Linked DNA regions of Homo sapiens. The protein of the gene in region 2 purifies or fractionates together with the protein of the main gene of each other region. This does not show direct contact. Each region holds a gene or a part of one and is shown on either strand. Other genes may lie near its edges.

Region 1 (3,952 bases), on a different chromosome or scaffold from region 2:
AGTGCTAGGACCCCAAGACAGATTTCCTGACTCCAGACCTAATATTAATCCCTCTGTGTCACCTTCTCTTGTACTAGTATGTTCTCATTCTTCTATGTATGCTTTGCTCTTAATTTAACATTTGGAATTTCATCATGCTAATTAAAGCAATAAGACAAGAAGAAAAGGCAATTAAAAGGCATCACATGTGTTAGTTTTACCTTTATTCACCAGTTACATTATGTTTCTTTTTTCTCCAGTTCCAGAGTTGACTCAAATGTAGGGCATTCCTTGGGCTACTCTAAGAAACAAACTTTTTTTTTTTTTTTTTGAGACAGGGTCTCTGACACCCAGGCTGGAGTGGCGAGATCTTGGTTCACCACAGCCTCGACCTCCTGGGCTTAAGCCATACCCCCCACCTCAGCCTCCTGAGTAGCAGGGACTACAGGTGTGTGCCACCACACCACGCCTGACCTTTCTTTTTTTTTTTTTTTTTTTGTAGAGACAGGGTCTTGCTTTGTTGCCCAGGTTAGTCTCAAACTCCTGGTCTTGACTGATCCTCCTGCCTTGGCCTCCCAAAGTGCTGGGATGACAGGCATGAGCCAACGTGCCTGACCAGTATTGTTAATTAATACAGTATATGTTCAGCTACTAAATTTCAAATGAGACTAATTATATTCAGAGAATGGCGTATTGCCAAGTGAAATCTTCAGCTCCTTGGTCCATGTCAGCAAGCCTGAAAGAAAACCGCCATAGGCCAAGAGTACTGGGGATAAAAACATACCTTCATCCTCCCCTTGTCTAATCCCTACAATAATACTCAAGGCCTCGTTCCCACATCTTTTCTGAATGGCCCCTTGCCTGTCTGAACAACACAGTGAGGAAGACTCAGGTTACCTCTCCCAGAAGGTCCTAGAACTAGACTAGGTCATTCAACCAATGCTTGTTAAGCACTCCCTATATACAAATATTTTATTACGTCCTGAGTAAAGGAAAGAATCTGGTCTAAACTCTAACTGAAATGGATATAGGCCTCTGGTGTATGAGATTCAAGTCAGAGAATAATGGACAATCCAGGTCATCTGTGCCTGGAGCTGTTCCGCTGCAAATACAAGTGAACAGACAGGCTCAGGCAACTGGGTGACTCCAAATCTGTGACAAGAGATAAGACAGGTCACCACCACAGGTAACAGGCAATGTCCCATGCCCCTCACTGCTGAGCAGCCAGAGGCCTTTTAGGCCTCTAGTCCTCTTATTTACCTTTCTATGTATGTGTCTGTGTATGTACATACATGTGCAAGCTAGTTTTTCAAGAGCCAGCCATCCCATGGAAAATCTGGAAGGGGAAAAAATTCCATAAGCCTGAAAAACCAGGCTTCTACCCGGATGTGAATAAAATGAACAGTAAAAAAAAGGCAACAAGAGTGTGCACTGTGGGCTGGGCACGGTAGCTCATGCCTGTAATCCCAACACTTTGGGAGACCGAGGTGGGCAGATCACTTGAGGTCAGGAGTTCGAGACCAGCCTAGCCAACACGGCGAAACCCCATCTCTATTAAAAATACAAAAATTGGTTGGGCGTGGTGGTACACCCCTGTAATCCCAGCTACTCGGGAGGCTGAGGCACAAGAACTGCTTGAACCCAGGAGGCAGAGGTTGCAGTGAGCCAAGATTGCACCATTTATACCCCAGCCTGGGTGACAGAGCGAGACTCTGTCTCCAAAAAAAAAGAAAAAAAAACCAGCGTGCACTCTGTGGTGCAGGCTAACCCAGTGGTGGACAGCAAGACAGTCTGAATTCAGAGGAGGGAAAAGTTCTTTCTTGTTTCTGGCCCAAACACTTGCTGGGTGGCTGAGAGGACCCTAATGACGTACAGTTCAACCCATGTGATAAACAGGAGGAAGGGAATTCCAGTAAGGGCCTGAGCAAGGGCAGTGACCAGATGTGGAAGGAAGAGAAGCTGAAAGTTCTCATAGGAGAGGACTGGGGAGTGAAGTTAGAGAGACAGGCTGAAGCAAGCTGGGGACAGGCCATGAGCAGCCTGATGGGAAAGTAGAGATTTAGAGATCAACTCAGCCAGAGTGGGAGGATGGGAGATGAAGAGAAGCCAAGTGACAGGCAGGGTGGCTACCAGCCAGATGTACACCTGCACTTGAGGATGAGGGTTACTGTGTAGATTACTAGGAGGTAAGTTTCATGAAGACAGGGTTTTGTGGTGTTTTTTTGGAGACAGGGTCTCACTCTGTCGCCCTGACTAGAGTACAGTGGTGTGATCTTGGCTCACTGTAACATCCACCTCTGGGTTCAAGTGATCCTCCCACCTCAGCCTCCTAAGTAGCTGGGCCTACAAGGCACGCACCACCATGCCCAGCTAATTTTTGTATTTTTAGTAGAGATGGGGTTTCATCATATTGGCCAGGCTGGTCTCAAACTCCTGGACTCAAGCAATCCACCTGCCTCAGCCTCCCAAAGTGCTGGGATTACAGGTTAGAACCACTGCTCCCAGCCAAGACACAGGTTTTTGTCACCACTGTACCCAGGGCTGGCACATGACAGGCACTCAATAACTATTTGTTCAATGAATGAATCAGGGATGAACGTAACAGCTCAGTCCAAGTAAGCTGGACTTGAGCTCAAGTACAGCTGGTTAAGGGCAAGTGTTTGGGCCAGAAAGAATAAAGAACTTCAAACAGAAATACCTGAGGCCAAATCACTCACTGATAAAGAGGACAAGAGTCATCCATCATCAGTTTCCAGTGAATCAGCACTCTGGCCTCCAAAGCACAAGTTAAGAAGATGCAAGGCCAGCAGCATTTCCCCACTAAAAAATTACGTGGGTCTGGCTGGGTGTGGCGGCTCATACCTGTAATCCCAGCACTTTGGGAGGCCGAGGCAGGCAGATCACCTGAGGTCGGGGGTTCAAGACCAGCCTGACTAACATGGAGAAACCCCGTCTCTACTAAAAATACAAAATTAGCCAGGCGTGGTGGCACATGCCTGTAATCCTAGCTACTTGGGAGGCTGAGGCAGGAGAATCGCTTGAACCCGGGAGGCAGAGGTTGTGGTGAGCCAAGATGGTGCCATTGCACTCCAGCCTGGGCAACGAAAGCAAAACTCCATCTAAAAAAAAAAAAAAATTCACACGGGTCCAATATCCTAACCTAAAGTTTGCCACTGCAGTTCAAAACCATCCTGTTTTTCTGGCTTCTATTTCACATTATGCCATAATGGAAGGCTTGTCTACTGGGAGTGAAAATCAATACTAGCCACCATGAAAGATTTGTCAAAAGCCCAGCCCTCTCAAACAACGAACCCCTTTACCTGTCTGGAAAACTCCTATTCATCCTTTAAAATCCATCTCTGGCAAGCCTTCCCTGATGGCCCCTCCTCAGGCTGGTATTTCTATACACTGCAAATACTTCTACTCTTTTTTTTTTTTTTTTTTTTGAGACAGTCTCGCTCTATCACCCAGGCTGGAGTGCAGTGGCACGATCCTGGCTCACTGCAAGCTCCGCCTCCCAGGTTCACGCCATTCTCCTGCCTCAGCCTCCCGACTACAGGCACCCGCCACTATGCCTGGCTAATTTTTTGTATTTTTAGTAGAGATGGGGTTTCACCGTGTTAGCCAGGATGGTCTTGATCTCCTGACCTCGTGATCTGCCCGCCTCGGCCTCCCAAAGTGCTGGGATTACAGGCGTGAGCCACCGCACCCGGCCTACAAATACTTCTACTCTTAATGTCATCACTATAATTTTTAAATTTCCTTTATGAATTCCTTGAAAAAAAAAAAAGGCTGTCTCTTACTTGTCTGCTTATCAAGGTTCAGCATAGTACTTAACCAGTTGATGTAAACAGAACCAATTTTCACCCTTCTATTCTAAATTAAATTCTAACCCTCAGCTCCAATTCACTGGCAGAGGTTCCCACAGCTCAGAGCAAGCATAAAGCAGGACAAGGGTGCCAGTGGCAGAAGG
Region 2 (4,505 bases):
CTGGCCCATACATAGTAGGCACTTAATAAATGTTTGTTGAATGAATGAACAATCCACGGAGGGCAATAGCCAGGCAGTACTGTGGTTAAGTAAGCCAACTGCCAAATTGGTGGAAGGGATTGTAATAATATATTATGGCCTTAAACTGTGTCATGATTTCATCTAGGATGTAGACTGTCGACACTTCCTGAAGAGATCTTCTGCCCTGAGAACCATAAAGGTTTTCTGGTGGGGATGGGGAAGATAGAAGTATAGTAAATTACAGACTAGCATCTGTATGTTGTCTTACTGTTTCGCAGCTGATTTCATCAGTTGACCCACAGTTCCTGAAACTCACCAAAGTAGATGACCAAATTTACTCTGAGTTCCGGAAAAATTTTGAGACCCTTAGGATAGATGTGTTGGACCCAGAAGAACTCAAGTCAGAATCAGCCAAAGAGGTAAAAATTCTCTTTCTTAAATATTACTTAGCATTTAACCAACAATTTTTGATTGCGAATGTTTTTTTACATTTAAGCTCTTTTTTTGTTTGAGAAAAATATGTAAAGAACCAGAACTTCTTTTCTAGTTGTAATCAACTAAGTTAGGAAATGAATGTTTTTCCAGTTTATGGACTTTTCATGTTGTTGAGTCTATTTTTTTCTCCTTTTTGTCTTGGACATTTTAAATCTCCACCCATCAGCCCTTTCAGAGGAGGATGGATCAGTTTATTTAGGTAGTATAGCCAGAAGGCTTGGATGGGGAGTGGCAAATAGGGTATAGGAAGGTGTTTTGATTCTCTGGATTTAAGTTCATGTGATTACAGGCCATGGGTAACTGGAAAACTTTTGTTTTTCATTGCTTATGTGATTATCCTATACTTTGATAGGAAACTAACACATTTACAGTTAGGAAAAAAATGTTTTCCTTGAGAGTAAACCCTTGGCTAATGAAGAATCTAAAGTTTTTGTTTGTTTGTTTGTTTTGTTTTGTTTTTTGTTTTTTGGTTTTTTTTTTTTGATACAGGGTCTCACTCTGTTGCCCAGGCTGGAGTGCGGTGGTGCCATCTCAGCTCACTGCAACCTCCGCCTCTCAAGCTCAAACAGTCCTCCTGCTTCAGCCTCCCTAGTAGGTGGGACTGCAGGTGCATGCTACCATGCCCAGCTAATATTTTGTATTTTTGGTAGAGACAGGGTTTCACCATGTTGACCAGGCTGGTCTTAAACTCCTGAGCTCAAGCGATCCGCCCGCCTCGGTCTTTCAAAGTGCTGGGATTGCAGGCGTGAGCCACCACACCCAGCCAAGAAACTACACTTTTAACTCCTAGCAGGCAGTTAGTGATCTTTGTCTTTGGAAAACTGTCACTACTGAATGGACTTCTTTATTAAAATCATTTGTGTTTTAGTGGGGATAGATGACCATTTTGGGCTGAACTGACCAATAACTTCAAAACAAAACAATTGACTTAAGAAATAATATTTTAATTCTGCAGTAAAGGATTTATATATTTTTCAGAGTAAAATATTGTTCATCTTGGGAAATGGCAGTCTAAAGACACAATAGGTAGCACAGAAACGCATTGCTAGTTTCACTGTGAAACCAACAATCACCTCAATCCCAGTCTCACTATGATTATTTTCCTTACTGGGAAAATGGAAGTCCCTCTCCTGGCCTTAGTACGTCAGCCTCTTGCATTTGTCAGCTAAAGCATCGTTTTTGCCTTTATAGAAGTGGAGGCCATTCTGCTTGAAGTTTAATGGGATTGTTGAAGACTTCAACTATGGTACTTTGCTGCGACTAGATTGTTCTCAGGGCTACACTGAGGAAAACACCATCTTTGGTGAGTTTCTTCCCTCTGGAATTGTTTCTGTGTAAGGAGACTGAACAGTCTGGCTTTACTGATGAATCAGTGATGTGTATAGTTAGGTCACCTTATCTTGTTTCATCTTTAAAGATCTTGTTGCTATTTTTATGTAACTTGAAGATAGTTAAGTATTTTCAATCTCATTAATATGAGATTGGAATTAAAGATCTCTGAAGTTTATGACTATACTGGAATGGTTTGCATGTTATTTCAATTTTGTCAGTAGATTTCCAGCATATTTAGGGAACAGGCCAGGCACAGTGTCTCATGCCTTGTAATACCAGCACTTTGGGAGGCTGACATGGGAGGATCACTTGAGCTGAGGATTTTGAGACCAGCCTGGGCAACATAGGGAGACCCCATCTCTACAAAAATGTTTAAAAAATTAGCCAGGTATAGTGGTGAGTGTTTGTAGTTCCAGCTATTCAGGAGATTGAGGCAGGAGGATTGCTTGAACCAGGGAAATTGAGGCTGCAGTAAGCTGTGATTGTGCCACTGCAGTCCAGCCCTGGTCATCAGAGTGAGACCCTGTCTCAAAAAAAAGAGATTTAGGGAATAAGCTGAGAGTAGGATGATAATCAATTCTGTTCACTTTTCAGCCCCCAGGATACAATTCTTTGCCATTGAAATTGCTCGGAACCGGGAAGGCTATAACAAAGCTGTTTATATCAGTGTTCAGGACAAAGAAGGAGAGAAAGGAGTCAACAATGGAGGAGAAAAAAGAGCTGACAGTGGAGAAGAAGAGAACACCAAGAATGGAGGAGAGAAAGGAGCTGATAGTGGAGAAGAAAAAGAGGAAGGAATCAACAGAGAAGACAAAACTGACAAAGGAGGAGAAAAAGGGAAAGAAGCTGACAAAGAAATCAACAAAAGTGGTGAAAAAGCTATGTAAGGTATACAGGGAACAGCACTCTAGAAGCTATGACTCAATTGAGACTACAAGTACCACGGTGCTACTTGCACAGACCCCTTTGGTTAAATGTAAATTCTTGTACAATTGAAGGATACGCAGAAGGACATCTTTCTAGTCTAACAGTCAGGAGCTGCTCTGGTCATTCCCTTGTATGAACTGGTCTAAAGACTGTTAGTGGGGTGTTAGTTGATTTTTCCTGGTATACTGTTTCTTGGCTGACACTACTGGTCAAGTAAGAAATTTGTAAATAAATTTCTTTTGGTTCTTATTATCTATATCTGTGACTGACTTTAAAAAGGTATTTGACACTTGAAATTTTTTTCAAATATGTAATCTCATCACCATGTCTTATATAAGATAATTTACTCCTGTTTCTTACTGCTTCTCACTGTTTCCTGTAGTGAAGTTCTCTAAACTTGTTAAGTTATACCTGGTGTTGGGATTAGAAGTCCTTACATAAGAATTGACTCTTAATCTCTGAGTGACTATAACTCCCTGATTTCTTTGCTATATATGACAAAATATTTGATAAATAGCAGCAACCTGAACCTGTCAAACTAGTGAATGCAGCCCAGTTCATATTAGAAGAGCAAGAGACTGGACATGCTTCAGTATTTGCTTTTCTTTTGGTAGCCAGAATGTTACCTGAAAGCTAGCAAAAAAAAAAAAAAAAAAAAGGGAAAACCAGACAGAGTAGCTACCCCCTTTTTTTTTTTTTTGGAGATGGAGTCTTACTCTGACTCCCAGGCTGGAGTGTAGTGGCACAATCTTGGCTCACTGCAACCTTGGCCTCCTGGGTTCAAGTGATTCTCCTGCCTCAGCCTCCCAAGTAGCTGGGACTACAGGTGCGTGCCACCATGCCCAGCTAATTTTTTGTATTTTTAGTAGAGACGGGGATTCTGTGAAGAAAGTCAATGGTAGCTTGATGGGGATAGCATTATATCTATAAATTACTTTGGGCAGTATGGCCATTTTCACTATATTGATTTTTTTCTCTCCATGAGCATGGAATGTTTTTCCATCTGTTTGTGTCCTCTCTTATTTCCTAGAGCAGTGGTTTGTAGTTTTCCTTGAAGAGGTCCTTCACATCCCTTGTAAGTTGTATTCCTAGGTATTTTATTCTCTTTGTAGCAATTATGAATGGGAGTTCACTCATGATTTGGCTCTGTTTGTCTATTTTTGGTTTATTGGTGATTTTTGCACATTGATTTTATATCCTGAGACTTTGCTGAAGTTGCTTATCAGCTTAAGGAGATTTTGGGCTGAGACGATGGGGTTTTCTAAATATACAATCATGTCATCTGCAAACAGAGACAATTTGACTTCCTCTCTTCCTATTTGAAAACGTTTTATTTCTTTCTCTTGGCTGATTGCCCTGACCAGAACTTCCAATACTACATTGAATAGGAATGGTGAGAGAGGGCATCCTGGTCTTGTGCCGATTTCCAAAGGGGATGCTTCCAGCTTTTGCCCATTCAGTATGATATTGGCTGTCGGATTATCATAAATAGCTCATTATTTTGAGATACGTTCCATCAATACCTAGTTTATTGAGAGTTTTTAGCATGAAGGGGTGTTGAATTTTATGGAAGGCCTTTTCTGCATCTAATGAGATAATCATGTGTTTTTTGTCATTGGTTCTGTTTATGTGATGGATTATGTTTATTGATTTGCATATGTTGAACCAGCCTTGCAACCACAGGATGAAGCTGACTTGATCGTGGTGGATAAGCTTTTTGATGTGCTGCT

What was found. The genes of interacting proteins can lie anywhere in the genome.
Region 1: the proteins of PBDC1 (region 2) and PTPN23 fractionate together in Homo sapiens (co-fractionation; one large-scale study listed by BioGRID). This does not show direct contact.

The regions. Positions count from the first base shown.
Region 1 is NC_000003.12:47,383,929-47,387,880, reverse strand, and holds part of PTPN23 (tyrosine-protein phosphatase non-receptor type 23), read right to left. Parts: intron 1-3,952. UniProt on the Homo sapiens protein: Plays a role in sorting of endocytic ubiquitinated cargos into multivesicular bodies (MVBs) via its interaction with the ESCRT-I complex (endosomal sorting complex required for transport I), and possibly also other ESCRT complexes.
Region 2 is NC_000023.11:76,175,174-76,179,678, forward strand, and holds the end of PBDC1 (protein PBDC1), read left to right. Parts: intron 1-299; coding exon 300-440; intron 441-1,707; coding exon 1,708-1,819; intron 1,820-2,442; coding exon 2,443-2,735; coding exon of another isoform or gene 2,736-2,844; 3' UTR 2,845-3,141; downstream 3,142-4,505.